Linked DNA regions of Homo sapiens. The protein of the gene in region 1 purifies or fractionates together with the protein of each later gene. This does not show direct contact. Each region holds a gene or a part of one and is shown in the gene's direction. Other genes may lie near its edges.

Region 1 (4,171 bases):
CATGGCACTCCTAAATGTTTGCTCTATTATATAAATACTATATTTATATTTGTATAAATATATTTATTACATACATATTCACTACTATGGTTTTTTTTTTTTTTTTTTGAAACAGAGTCTCGCTCTGTCGCCCAGGCTGGAGTGCAGTGGCGTGATCTCAGCTCACTGCAACCTCCGCCTCCCAGGTTCAAGCGATTCTCCTGCCTCAGCCTCCCAAGTAGATGGGACTAAGGGCGCCTGCCACCATGCCTGGCTAATTTTTTTTTTTTTGTATTTTTAGTAGAGACGGGGTTTTACTATGTTGGCCAGACTGGTATTGAACTCCTGACCTCATGATCTGTCCGTCTTGGCCTCCCAAAGTGCTGGGATTACAGGAATAAGCCACCCCACCCAGACACTATGGTTGTTTTTAATTCACCCCCGGCGGTAGCAAGGGCCCTGCTGGAGGCTTGTTGATCGAATGAGTGAAGGGGCGCAGGCTCCTGCCTCTTTGTAGAGGAGGAAGCCTGCCCTGCTTGGGTGGGAGTGTCCCAAGTGTGGGGCGCTGCAGGGCACTGAGTCAGGGAAGGTCTCACAGGATTCAGCCCCGGGTTGCCACTGTGGCAGCCGCTGGGGGGAAGCACCGAGAATCCACTCCCAGCCCAGGACCCGGCCCCCCACAGCCCAGCCCAGCAGCTCTTTGAATCCTGGGAGTCCCAGCCCTTCCCGGGGCCCCTCTTCTCTCAACCCCCCTGCTTGGCCGAGCCCTGGTGCCCATGGGCTCCTCCCCTTCCCAGGAGTCCAGGTGAGGTGAGTTGTCAGGTGTCTGAACCGCAGGGCAGAGCCCCGCCTCCAGGAACGACAGGAGGGCGGCCACCAGGAGGCCACCAAGGTCGCCACTCACCTGATTCACAGCTTTCGGGAAGTGGGTTAACGGGATTCCCAAGCCCGGGTTGCGCCAGGTCTCTGGGCTGAGTCACAGGGGCCTGGGGCCCTGCAGGTGGGAGCCGTTACTGAGCTTTGGGCACCCCCTTGATCCCTAAGGCCCTAGGACCACCCCCAACACCCAGTACCCCAGACTTCAGCCTCTCCAAACCCAGGCCCTCCCCAGCCCGGAACCCCTTCCTTTCAGTGCCCTGGCACCTTTCTCTGCCCCTGGACAATTAATGTCAGGGACCTCTGGGCCCAAGCCCCCTCCCCTGCCCTTCCAGAGGCCACATCCTGGGGTCTCAGCTAGAGCCCCCCCAGAGCCCTGTAGCGGCTGGCTTCCTCCCCGCAGCCCCGCCCTCTGCCCAGGACCCACAGCCGGGGTGGCCGCGGGAGCCACCTGGGGACTGGTCTGACGGCATTCCGCCTCCCAGGATAAAACCTGGGGCGACCTGCAGGGAACCTACACACCCTGACCCGCATCGCCCTGGGTCTCTCGAGCCTGCTGCCTGCTCCCCCGCCCCACCAGCCATGGTGGTTTCTGGAGCGCCCCCAGCCCTGGGTGGGGGCTGTCTCGGCACCTTCACCTCCCTGCTGCTGCTGGCGTCGACAGGTACGTCCGGAGGCTGCTCCTCCCTCCTCCCTCTCACCTCCACCCTCCTTCCCTCCTTCCCTCCCTCCCTCTCTCCCTCCTGGCCTTGCCTCTCTCATCTCCTTTCCGCTTCTGCTCTGTTTATCTCTTGCTCCTTAACTGCTCTGTGCCTCGGTTTCTTCTACGGCTGTGAGGATGAAACAGAAAACGCAGCAAGTACGCAGCGCGCCTCGGTCTCCAGTTACCGTCGGCGTCGCCATCGCCTGCTCCCTCTCGCCTCCGTGTTCTCCCATCTCCTCGTCCTCCGCTGCTTGCCTCTGGGGAAGCACCGTTTTGTGTTGTTCCTGCCGCAGGAGGTCAGGGGAGGGCACACCAGCGGCAGCAGCGTCCAGAGCCGAGGGGCTCAGGTCTGTGCCTCCCTCGAGGAGCCGGTCCTGGTCCCCGGAAGGCAGGCTGGACGGGAAGCTGCGGGAGGGCAGGGTCACAGCTGTGCAGCCAGGGCCTGGCCAGGCCCCAGGAAATGCCCCGCCGGTAGGGGCCCTGGGGTTGAGAGACTTGAGAGTCTCCCTGGGCACTGGAGGGCTAGAGGTTCCTCACCACCAGGTACTCAAGGGGACCCCCTCCTCACTGGGCGCTGGGACGCCTGCTCACTGGGCGCTGGGACCCCTCCTCACTGGGCGCTGGGACCCCCTCCTCACTGAGCGCTGGGACCCCCTCGTCACTGGGCGCTGGGGACCCCTCCTCACTGGGCGCTGGGGAGCCCTCCTCACTGGGCGCTGGGGACCCCTCCTCACTGGGCGCTGGGGAACCCTCCTCACTAGGCGCTGGGGAGCCCTCCTCACTGGGCGCTGGGGACCCCTCCTCACTGGGTGCTGGGACCCCTTCCCACTGGGCACTGGACCCCTTCTCACTGGGTGCTGGGGGCTTCTCGCTGGGCGCTGAGGGACCCTCCTCACTGGGTACTGGGACCCCTCCTCACTGGGCGCTGAGGGACCCTCCTCAGGGGGTGCTGGGACCCCTCCTCACTGGGCGCTGAGGGACCCTCCTCACTGGGTGCTGGGACCTCCACCTCACTGGGCACTGGGATCCCTTCTTACTGGGTGTTGGGGGCCTTCCTCACTGGGCGTTGAGGGCCCCTCACCACTGTGTCCTGGGGCCCCTCACCGGCCTAACCGTTTCCTTCTCTTGCCCTCAGCCATCCTCAATGCGGCCAGGATACCTGGTGAGTGGAGCTGGCAGCTCTGACGGGAGGGAGAAGGGAGGAGGCCCACGCGCAGGCAGTGTCTATGTGTCCGTCCCCTGGGCACAGGTCAGAAAGGGGCTGGGGTGAGAGGGGGAAAGAGCTAGAGGGGAAGGGAGGCAGGAAGGAGACACGGATGCAAGGAGAAAGGCTTGAGAGATGCCAGGGCCAGAGGAGAGAGAGAGCCAGGAAGGTGAACAGAGTGGAAAGCAGGGTAAGGAAAGAGGGGGAGGGAGAGACCAGGTGCAGCTGACAAGGAGTGAGTGGAAAGGCCAGGGCCAGGTGAGGACCAGCAGAGAGTGAGGATGGAGGGAGGGATGGGACGGGGAGGTGGGCGGAGCTTGGGGTATGGGTGGAGCTTAGGATGTGGGTGGAGCTTGGGGTGTGGGTGGAGCTTGGAGTGCAAGTGAAACTTGGGATGTGGGTAGAGCTTGGGGACATGAACGGAGCTTGGGCTGTGGGCAAAGCTTGGGGTGCAGGCCTAGGGATTGGGATTCCGGGGGTGGGTTGTAGGAAGTTGGAGATAACAAAACTTGACCGTACCCTCCAGTTCCCCCAGCCTGTGGGAAGCCCCAGCAGCTGAACCGGGTTGTGGGCGGCGAGGACAGCACTGACAGCGAGTGGCCCTGGATCGTGAGCATCCAGAAGAATGGGACCCACCACTGCGCAGGTTCTCTGCTCACCAGCCGCTGGGTGATCACTGCTGCCCACTGTTTCAAGGAGTATGTACAGCCGGCCTGGGGCACTTGATCTTCTAAGGCCCTGGGCTTTGTGCCCCAGGCCCTGGGCTCCCTTTACAGGCTCTGCTTCCGGGCCTCTGTTCAATCTTGGTGCCCCTCGATTCTACCTAGAAGCCTCTCCTGCCTTCAGGGGCCTTCACACCCATGCTGTTCCCCCAGGTACCTCCTCCCAGACCAGGCCTGGCTGATCCTCCCCTTCCCTTTCCTTCCAGCAACCTGAACAAACCATACCTGTTCTCTGTGCTGCTGGGGGCCTGGCAGCTGGGGAACCCTGGCTCTCGGTCCCAGAAGGTGGGTGTTGCCTGGGTGGAGCCCCACCCTGTGTATTCCTGGAAGGAAGGTGCCTGTGCAGACATTGCCCTGGTGCGTCTCGAGCGCTCCATACAGTTCTCAGAGCGGGTCCTGCCCATCTGCCTACCTGATGCCTCTATCCACCTCCCTCCAAACACCCACTGCTGGATCTCAGGCTGGGGGAGCATCCAAGATGGAGGTGCGGCTTCTTCCTCTCCAAGGTGGTTGGGGGCAGATGGGGACAGAGGATGGCAGACACTCAGGGACACAGACACCATGAGCAACAAAGGGTGGAGGCCAGAGGCACAGCATGACAGAGGTGGAAGGAAAGATGGGCTGCAATCCAGAAGAAACCTTGGTGGGCAATTTCAGGCCATTTCTCTTTTCTTTTCTTTCTTCTTC
Region 2 (3,500 bases), on another chromosome or scaffold:
AGGAGCTTGGCAAATTATTTTTTCTAGGATGCAGGTAGACTTTACTAAATGATTAATTATAGCTTTTATCCTCTCCTTCAAAGGTTACGGTTAGATGCTTGTCACTTGCTTGTCCTGATGCCTTAGTCCAGCTCTCTCTGAATGGAGACTAGTTGGTGTTGCCTGAGTCCTCTGAGGAGTGCTGTGATGACAGCATCCTACCCACAAGGTTCCAAGCCACAAGGCTCTGTGCCTGCTGTCAGCAGCCAGAGTTGTATCTGGAACAGGGTTCTCCACCAGAGTCTAGGCTTCCTGGGGGTGCTGCTCACCTTCCAAGTTATGGGGATTCTGTCCTGATGTCGAATAGTTAAATACTCAGCACAGAGCAATAACCTATGTGTTTGTGATGGGTTTATTTTAATGAATCTAGATGAGTGAAATGCACATTTTTAGAAACTAGGTTAAGAGAGACCAACTCTCCCAACTAAATTTTTTGTTGTGCCTAGTTGGGGGTTTTTTGTTTTTAGTAATAGTGACCATGGGCCTGATGAGGGAGGCCACTGGGATAAGCTTTGCGGGAACTCCCGGAATGTTTGAGAGGTTCTCTTGTTCTGGTCTTTCCTGAGACTGAAGCCACTGGCAGCAATGTGCACGCTGAGCCGCAGCGCTCTGGCTGCTGGATTGTGTCCATGACTGCTCAGGACGTTGCCAGGATGTTGTGTTTTCCAATAATAAGCATTACTCTATAAATGCAAATTACCATTGTATGTAAATGTCATTGTACCATTTATCAAGCATTTACTCTGGGATAGGCAGCACTTTATGTACATTATCTCAGTGTTTCCTCATAAAAACCCGGTGAGGTATTTTTGTCCCCATTTTATAGATGAGGAAACTGGGTCTCAAAGAGTTTAGGTTTTTGCTCAGAAGCATATAGTTGGTGTGTGACAAATCTGGAAATCACCCCAGGAATGTCTGACTGCAAAGCCCCTCCTCTCAATAAACTACACAAAGTCTGCATTAAAAAAAGAAAAAAAAATTCCCACAGCCATGCTGACTCTCTTCTAGGTTCTAGTCTTATATTTGGAAGCATTAAAGATAGAATCCTGAACCTAAAGACAGTATCAGTAGTGACATCTGCAAAGATAGACTGTCATCTGCCAGGTCCTACTTTGACCACAACACGGAAGAATAATAAATGACTGGAAGCCTAAGTAGTTGTATACAATTATTAGATTTTGTTTTAAGTTCTAATAGGTGCAAAAAAGGCCTCATGAAAATGAAATGTTTCAGATAAAAGAACTACATTAAAATAGAGCCATGAGTAAAAGAATCAGATAACTATGTGTTAAACATTTTACATTTCCTTCGAGTTAATTTACATTTGTAGAGTAATGCTTAATGCACATTCCTGTATACAACTACTTTGAAGTCCTTAACATGACCAGAGCATATTATCACAATCATTGGTGTGGATCATTGTTAACTATCTATCTGTTAATTCTTACCTGCCCTGCCCTTTCAAAATTATCCTAATAACATGTTGCTGCATCAAATCTAGAACTTAAATAAGTGGATAAAATATATAGCTATGTCTGTTAACCATTTATTAAGAATCTCTTTTGTAGGTGAGGCACTATGTACTTTATCTTCATTATCTATGTAGTTTCCCAAAATCTGCTCAAAATATGTAATGTGATCCTAATTTTTAAAATGAGAAACCTCAAGTTACCCAGGCTGTGAACTCAACTCCACATTCCTGTGCTTTTCTTTCTGTACCACACCATCTCCTTTAACCACCAGGATAGCCTCTGGGTTTGCTATGGACATAGGCATAAGATTGATTTTACTAAATATCAGCTGTCCCAACATTCTTATGATTTTGAGTTATCAGAAAGACCTGAGTTTCTAAAAACTTGAGCTTTGGAATCACAGAATTAACTTGAACAGCCTTATCATAGAGAAATGAAACAATTTTGAAATAGCTGTTTGAAAATAGGTTGAGGATCCTAAATTAGGAACCACTAATCTGGTCTTTTTTTGTTGTTTAGGAAACTGAAGCACAAAAAAGAGAAGCTTCTCATAGTGTTACAGAGCTTATGCCAGAATTAGGACTTAGAATTTAGGTCATCTTGCAGCAAGTCAAGTGTACCCTACTGGACCCCAGTGCCTTTCTCCCTCCCTCATACCTCTTTATCGACCTACATATCTACCTACTTCTCTCTCTCTCTCTCTCTCTCTCTGTTTCTCCATCCATCCACCTACCTACCTTTTCTCCGTTGTCTTTTAAATAATGTATATTACCAAAAAAAACACCTTTTCTGCAGAGGAACTTAATCACCAAAACTGATGCTTGAGGTGTTTTGTTTTCTTCCACTCTCATGTTAAGATTTTTTCTATTTCAGAAATTAACCCTGCAGCATGTGAACAGTAATCAGTGCCTGGATAAAGCCACAGAAGAGGATAGCCAGGTGCCCAGCATTAGAGACTGCAATGGAAGTCGGTCCCAGCAGTGGCTTCTTCGAAACGTCACCCTGCCAGAAATATTCTGAGACCAAATTTACAAAAAAACGAAAAAAATAAGGATTGACTGGGCTACCTCAGCATACATTTCTGCCACATTCTTAAGTAGCAAAAAAGGAAAAGTGCTTTCCTCCTCTGCAGGATGTAAGGTTTATCAGCCATTAAAACTTAGACTTCTCTAGCTTTTCACTAGCTGTGAACCAGCCTTCCTGTCCATGGACGTGAAACTGCATAGTAATGAGACTGTGCACACTGATGTTTACAAGATTGAAAGAGTCTTTCTCCGAAAATCATGGTAAAGAATACTGAGACAATGAAAAAAAATCAACAAAATATGCTTTCTGGAGAACTGTACCTTTTATGGTTTGCTTGCACATCAGTAGTTTCTGCTGAACGTGCTGTCATAATGAAGAGATTTCCAAGATTTTTTTTCCTGATTAGAACTGGTAGCCAGTATATTAAATATTGATATAAAAATAAAAGAACTGGAACCAGATTCAGAATCATGAAAACAACATTTTTACAACAACAAAAAAACTATATTAAACAGGGTTTAAAGGAAATTAAAACAGAACTATGAGAAGTACAATTTGTTATAGTATAGTATCAAATTTCTATATAGATTTTATACCTCAGTGGGGAAAAATAACTGATTCCAATGACATTCATTTTGTTTTCATCTGTGATAGTCATGGATGCTTTTATTTTCCTTGGGGTGCTGAAATTGAGCTGAAAAAAAAAGGCTCTTTGAATATAGTTTTAATTTCTCTCTACAGTTTTTTTTGTTTGGTTTGTGGGCTGTTGGAATTGTAATTTTTAATTGCCTTCTAAAAAATGGAAATTTAACAATGTCTGATCTCAGCTGAACAAATTAGATGTTTCAGTTGCTCTTGGGTCAACTGGCTTACAGATTTACATGTGCACACACACACAAATTTCTTATCACATTTTCGACTTCTTCACTTGACCTAACTGATTATGCGAAATACCCAAGATTC
Region 3 (3,380 bases), on another chromosome or scaffold:
TGGACAAGCGCTGGAGCCGCAGCCCTCAGACTGGCACGGGAACGCCAGCGTTGGGTGTTCAGATTCCACGCGTATGTCTGGGCTCACTCACAGCATGGCCGAGTGTCTGCAGTGCTGGTCCTGACCCTTCCAGAGCAGCAGTGGACAGATGAGATAAGACTGTTTCAGAAACAAAGATGGCCACAGCCTTCCTAACAAGCAGGTCATCTGGCCATGTCTGTATTGTAACTGGTAAAAGGCTTCAAGTCAGATTGATGATCAAGAAAAGTCAAAACCCCAGCCCAAGATTGGGAAAGCAGGTGGTGGTTCCAAGCTTTTAAAAAATTATTGAAGCTCTCCATCCTGTTCTGTGAGTGTGTCTTCTCTTTCTCCTTCACGTCATAGCCGTGACCCACCGTTCATCTCTGCTCTTGCGTAAAGATGACCGATGGAGTCCAAAGCCAAGTGGCTTCACCAGCTGACAAGCCACCCTCCTGCAGCCTGAGTTTCACAGTCCACTGGGTTCGTTGTCATGCGGTGTTTGAATGGTTAAGCCCTTGCAGTATTTCAGATCGGGCAAAAAATATCGGATGCACATAGCAGAACCATTGGTGGTATTTATAGCTTTGCTTTGTACTCCTCACTGTTTCTGCCTACGCAAAATATCCATGTTTCCTCTGAGAAATCTGTTGTGGACTGAAAGCGCTGCTGGCTGTGAAATTTAATAAAGTGTGTATGCTTTGCTAGAAAATTATTTCTTGGACAATAGGAACAGTCATTGATCTGTAAATCCTGGCTCTTAACAGTGAGTGGCCAAGGACTTGATCAGCCCATTTCTTGGTCCCTCAGTGCTTTAAAATTTAAGTAGCACTGCATTTTGTAATGTTGAATATGACTCTAGTGACTTGTAGGAGGCACTTGTGAGGAGATGCTTGCTTCAGTGTAAAAGATGCTCATGGCCTGAGTCAGTTGAGTTTTCTTTCAAGAAACCACTTCAGAGTGAAATATCCAGGGTTTCCCCGCCCTGGACATGTCCAGCCTGCCCAGGCAGCACACAGCCCTGTAAGTCCACCTCGTGTGGGTGAGATTTCCTCCTGCGTGATGACCTCATCGCCATCTCTGCTGTCTCATTCCACAGCCTCCCTCCCTCTTCTCTCCTCCTCTGCCCTCGCCCTTCCCCCTTCCCCATCCCCTCCCCCTCCTCCTCTGCCCTCGCCCTTACCCCTCCCCCTTCCCCTTCCGCTCCTCCTCCCTCCTCCACCTCTTTCTCCTCCTCCTTCCCTCCTCCTCCCTCCTCTTCCCTTCTCTGCCATCTTTCTCCCCGTGCCTATTGATCCCACATAGGCTCATTCTGGGTACACCGGCTAAAGGCTTTGGTGCATTGCAGCGTTTTCTCCCAGCAGCTGTGTGAAAGATGCATTTTCTAAGCTAAGGAGAATTTTCTCAAGAGTGGCATACTCATGCCAAATATTATTGCTCTGGGCCATATAGGCTGGTCTTCCTCCACACTAAAATGGGTGTCTTGTTTTGGTACTTAAAACAGTCTACTCCAGGCATCCAGTCCTTACAGACCAAGGAAGAGCATAGCGATGCCTGTTGGAATTGCAGATGCATTCTGGCCTTCTCCCCCGTCCTGAAACATTTTCTTTGAGGAAGGCTCTTAGAACATTAGATAGTCTGCTGAGGTTGTTGGCCCAGCTCCATACACCCAGTAGAACAGTGGAACAACTCATGCTTCATGCTGCCAAGCTGCTGTACTTCAAAGGAAACAGATCTAGCACACTGCTGCACCCCTGCTTCCACACTCCACACTTCACCCCGCTGCTTTTCTCTGACCCGCCCCTGGCCTTGTAAGACTCACGTAAGCTAAGTCCAGGATGCCTGTGGCCTGCGGCTTGATTCTTCCCTTTAGGATTCAGCAAGTTAATGGCTTCCTCGCTATAGAAGTGAGACTTTGACTTGATGCCTCTTGGTATATCAAAAAGATATTCATCCAGAAAGTACCAAATGTTCTGAAAGACCCGCTCTTCACTCCAGTTTTCCCTAGGGTGTTTCTGGCAGGGCGTTTTTAAAAGGCATCTACCTGAGTTGACGCTAATACTTGTCACCACCTGGAACGTAGTTATCGGTCGGCAGGCTGAACATACTCCAGATTCCCCAGAGGCCACTTCTGTAGCCCAGCGATGCATCTGAGCCTCTCTGCGTGGTTTATGCTTGAAAAATAGATAATGCTTTTAGATGGTTCACTGCCAGGCCATGGGCCCCACACATCTCAGGCCCTGTGTGAGGGAGCACACTGAGATGGTGCAGGAGTGAATGGGCATGGCTTGGCCTCGCTACCTCGGGGACCTGTTGGAGTTCTGGCAGCAGGGTGTCTGCAGGTGGGACGGCGTTCTGGGCAGAGTCAGAATGGTCAGAATGAAACAGAACAGCCAACTCACCCACAGGACAGCTTATTTTGAGGCAAGGTTTTGGATTTTGGAGGAAGCAGCCAGATGAGGCGGTGAGCCTCCAGAAGGTCAGCCTTTGGAGCACGTAAGATACTGTTACAGGGTCCAGAAATCGTGTTCACATGGGGGCTTTGACTCTTCAAACAGCTTTTGCAGATCGTAAATTGCATTTGCCTAGTCGTGTGACCTCAAAAGAAGTCAGACATATTTAATCCAGAAATAGTTTCGTTTGAGGGAGGGCTTGCAGGTCTGTAAATAGCATTTGCTTTCCTGGTTAGAGATTGGGATGCAGAAGGAGTTTTCAGTATTTTTTTTAAAACACTAATGATCATTGAAGAGTATTTATGTAAACATACAACGTATAATGGGTGGGGGATCCGATCATGGTGATGTACGGGGTGAATTCTCTTGCCGTGTTGCAAATGTGTAAAATAAAGATTATCTGGCAGAACCGTGTGTGTTTGAGATGCAGGGAGTTGCCGGCTCCTGGTGCTGTCTCTCCTCCACCTCCATCTCATAATTTTTTTCTTTGTGATTTTTGTTCATTAAATTAGTTAACTGCCTCCCACCAGCTCCTACTGACAATAGTGACACCTACTAGAGAAGTTCCAGGCATCTTAGCCGATCTGTGGCAGCGCAATTAAGACCCAGATAACTGAAAACCGGTTGTAGGTTACTGCTGTCCTGCTTACGCTGGAGGCGGGCGATGTCTTGTGAACCAGTGTCGGGGCACTGCTGCCATTTGAGGGGAGATGGCAGGCCTGGCGCAGAGCCCGCACTGTGACAGGCGCAAATGCACCTTCTGCATCGGTTAGCAATAGCTCTGGGTTACCCCATGTTGGAAGCAGAGAAATCCAGGATTTTAGACTCAAAGCATTTTTAGAAGTCATTCAGTTCCAAAGCCCATATTTTACTAAGAATGTTTTAAACTGAGGCATATTTTACCTACAG
Region 4 (3,500 bases), on another chromosome or scaffold:
TAACAAAAATATGTCCATCTTTGAAAAATCTACTGGAAGCAAAGTTTTGATTTTTCCATTGCCTTTTTAATCCTAGGTGAAGTCTTCGTCTTAAATGATGGTGGAGAAGTTGATTTAGACCTTGGAAATTATGAAAGATTTTTGGATATTAATCTTTATAAAGACAACAATATCACCACGGGGAAGATATATCAGCATGTGATCAATAAAGAGAGGCGTGGTGATTACCTGGGGAAAACAGTGCAAGGTATTATATTCCACAGACATTATGGAGCCCTGTGTGCTGAATATCTTTGTACTGCTCAAAAGTAGAACTGAAGGCCGGGCACGGTGGCTCAGGCCTGTAATCCCAGCACTTTGGGAGGCTGAGGCCAGTGGATCACCTGAGGTCAGGAGTTCGAGACCAGCCTGACCAACATGGTGAAACCCCATCTCTACTAAAAATACAAAAATTAGCCAGGCATGGTGGCGCATGCCTGTAATCCCAGCTATTCGGGAGGCTGAGGCAGGAGAATTGCTCGAACCCAGGAGGCAGAGATTGCAGTGAGCCGAGATCGTGCCACTGCACTCCAGCCTGGGCGACAGAGTGAGACTCCATCTTAAAAAAAAAAAACAAAACAAAGCCAAAAAAACCAAGTAGAACTGAAAATGTCACAGTCCCTGCGCTCTACAAGTTCTAATTCTTTTAAAATTGTTGCGTTTTTTTCTTTTCATTTTCCAAAAATATGTCAGGGTAACTTGCCAGGTGACTTTCAGGTGATTGGGGAGGCCTAAAGCACATTCTTTTCTCATGAGCATGGAATAAACTTTTGTATTAATACTTCTTTCTACAGTTGTCCCTCACATTACTGATGCTGTCCAGGAGTGGGTTATGAATCAAGCCAAGGTGCCGGTGGATGGTAATAAGGAAGAGCCCCAAATATGCGTTATTGAGGCAAGCATAGAACTTTCTTTATAAAATTATATCCTGCTGGGTCTTTGAGCATCTGATCTTCATTTATTTGACAAATACTTACACACGCCCTCCTGAGTGCTGGACACTGGGCTAGGAGGTGGGGTCACAGCAAGAAACAACATAGATGGCTTCTGTCTTTGTGGTCACAAGTGAGTGGGCAAGATTGGCATTAGACAGACAATCACACCTACTCCTGGGTGGACGTGCAGTGATCTGCTTGTGGAGACTGATCAGCTGCTGATAAAGTCAATGTGAGGGCCTCTTCTGTGCCGGGGCCTGGGATGGGCACAGTCTCTGACCTTGGGGAGCTTGCAGACAACCCTGTCTACACACAACAGACTGCATTCTAGTGCATACTATTTGAAAAGTATTTCCGAAGTGCTTTGGAAGTGTAAAGAGACACTGGGTTAGGGAAGTCAGATGGTAGCGGTGATAAGTGATTAGTATCAGCTGTTTAAAGAAAGAAGCTAGTGGCTGCGCGAGGTGGCTCATGCCTGCAATTCCGGCATTTTCAGATGCCAGGGTGGGAGGATTGCTTGAGTCCATGAGTTTGAGACAGCCTGGGCAACATGGCGAAAACCCGTCTCTACAGAGACTACAAAGATTAGCTAGGCATGTTGGTACGCACCTGTAGTCCCAGCTACTTGAGAAGGTGAGATGGGAGGATCTTTTGAGCCCGGGAGGTTGAGGCTGCAGAGAGCAGTGATTGCACCAGCACTTCAGCCTGGGTGATGGAGCCAGACCCTGTCTTAATTTAAAAAAAAAAAAAAAAAAAAAAAAAAGTCGTATTTGAACTTGCCACTTGTTTACTTCCTTCACCTTGTTCCCTTCCTCTCCACGTGCAGAATGACAATAACATCCATATCCTCCTCCTCTAAATGTCAGTTGGCTTAATTGCCGGGCGAAAGAGCAGAATAATGACCAATTTGGTTCTTAGAGTCAGGCTGCCTCAGTTTGTATTTCTGCAGTGACCCCTGAGCCACGTATAGCTCAGTGATTAAGAGTCTGGAGGCAAACTGTCTGGGTTTGTAGCCTAGCAAGGTCACTTATGGGGAGGAGGGGGTGACCTTGGGCAAGTTTGCTCAACCTCTCTGTGCCTCTTTAACTCATTTAACTCATTTGTAACTCATTGTTTTGAAGATTAAATAAGTCTCTACACTTAGTGCTTAGAATGGTGTCACAGATATAGTAAGTGCTTAAAAATTATTAGCTATTATTAAGATGCCTGTATGACTTTTGGAAAATTCTCACAGTTTCAACGTCCTCATTTGTAATAATGTAATAATATAATATTATAATAATAAGATAATAACAGGATTGGGGATTAAATGCAATGTATCAGAGCACTTTGCAATGTCTGGCATTTAGGAAGTGCTCAGTGAACATAAGTTAGCTATTATTATTGTCATCAATGTAAGTGTTAGCAGATATCATGATATGTAGAAGATCCATTTTGTTAATAGTAGAACTGATAAAGTTACTGGCTATTTATTTTTTATAGATAGGGTCTCGCTATGTTGCCTCGGGCTGGAGTGCAGTAGCTATCCACAGGTGCGATCAAAGCCCACTGCAGCCTCAAACTTCTGGGCTCAACCAATCATCTTGCCTCAGCCTCCCAAGTAGCTGGGACTACAGTGTACCACCACTATGCCTGGCAAATTTTTAATTTTATTTCTTATTCTACCCTTGAATTGACTTGTCTTCACAATGATTAATTTAGCACTTAATATGTACTAGCCCTGATGATAGCTGCTAAGGATGTGAGGTTGAGTGTGATCTGACTCCTGCTCTCCAGGAGCTCATTGGCTGGATTTTAAATTTCATGGAAACAGGGAAACTGACAAACAGAACCCCTTCTCCGTTATAACCCTGATGTTTATATTTGCTTATTGGATACTAGTGGTCAACCATCCTCTTTGGTTGATTGTAAGTTGTGTTCAACAGTTGTGTCTGTGCACCATTTAAGCTTTTGAAGAAGGACTGCCAAAGCTGATTTTTAGTTTTAATCATAGAGGAGCTGTTGAAATGTCTTCAAAGCCATTTTTATGAGTGAGACCTCAACTTCTCATACCAGTGGAGCTGACAGGTTTTATTTATATTAGTACGAGTTATCTTGGCATGAACCTGAAATAATTTATGCTTGTCTTAAAGGAATAACAGTTTTCTTTCTTCTTGTTTATTTTCCAAAAAAGAAGACTCAGCCAAGTGTGGTGGTGCAGGTCTGTAGTCCCAGCTACTTGGGAGGCTGAGGCAGGAGGATCATTTATACCCAGGAGTTTGAGGCCGCAGTGAGCCATGATCTCACTACTGCACTCCAGCCTGGGTGGCAGAGCGAGACTCTGTCTTTAAAAAAAATTTAAAAAGGGCCGGGTGTGGTGGCTCACGCCTGTAATCCCAGCACTTTGGGAGGCTGAGGCGGGTGGATCACGAGGTCAGGAGATCGAGGCCATCCTGTCTAACACGGTGAAACCCCGTCTCTACTAAAAATACAAAAAATTAGCCGGGCGTGGTGGTGGGCGCCTATAGTCCCAGCTACTCAGGAGGC

The links. Proteins that work in one complex are often made in the same cells at the same time.
Region 2: the proteins of PRSS22 (region 1) and GALNT1 purify together in Homo sapiens (affinity purification with mass spectrometry; one large-scale study listed by BioGRID and IntAct). This does not show direct contact.
Region 3: the proteins of PRSS22 (region 1) and GPR107 purify together in Homo sapiens (affinity purification with mass spectrometry; one large-scale study listed by BioGRID and IntAct). This does not show direct contact.
Region 4: the proteins of PRSS22 (region 1) and CTPS2 purify together in Homo sapiens (affinity purification with mass spectrometry; one large-scale study listed by BioGRID and IntAct). This does not show direct contact.

The regions. Positions count from the first base shown.
Region 1 is NC_000016.10:2,855,371-2,859,541, reverse strand, and holds the start of PRSS22 (brain-specific serine protease 4 precursor), read left to right. Parts: upstream 1-1,371; 5' UTR 1,372-1,437; coding exon 1,438-1,519; intron 1,520-2,693; coding exon 2,694-2,720; exon of another isoform or gene 2,721-2,807; intron 2,808-3,288; coding exon 3,289-3,460; exon of another isoform or gene 3,461-3,622; coding exon of another isoform or gene 3,623-3,690; coding exon 3,691-3,968; intron 3,969-4,171. UniProt on the Homo sapiens protein: Preferentially cleaves the synthetic substrate H-D-Leu-Thr-Arg-pNA compared to tosyl-Gly-Pro-Arg-pNA.
Region 2 is NC_000018.10:35,707,240-35,710,739, forward strand, and holds part of GALNT1 (polypeptide N-acetylgalactosaminyltransferase 1), read left to right. Parts: intron 1-2,384; coding exon 2,385-2,531; 3' UTR 2,532-3,500. UniProt on the Homo sapiens protein: Catalyzes the initial reaction in O-linked oligosaccharide biosynthesis, the transfer of an N-acetyl-D-galactosamine residue to a serine or threonine residue on the protein receptor.
Region 3 is NC_000009.12:130,137,285-130,140,664, forward strand, and holds the end of GPR107 (protein GPR107 isoform 3 precursor), read left to right. Parts: 3' UTR 1-2,880; downstream 2,881-3,380. UniProt on the Homo sapiens protein: Has been proposed to act as a receptor for neuronostatin, a peptide derived from the somatostatin/SST precursor.
Region 4 is NC_000023.11:16,695,670-16,699,169, reverse strand, and holds part of CTPS2 (CTP synthase 2), read left to right. Parts: intron 1-76; coding exon 77-247; intron 248-833; coding exon 834-934; intron 935-3,500. UniProt on the Homo sapiens protein: Catalyzes the ATP-dependent amination of UTP to CTP with either L-glutamine or ammonia as the source of nitrogen. Constitutes the rate-limiting enzyme in the synthesis of cytosine nucleotides.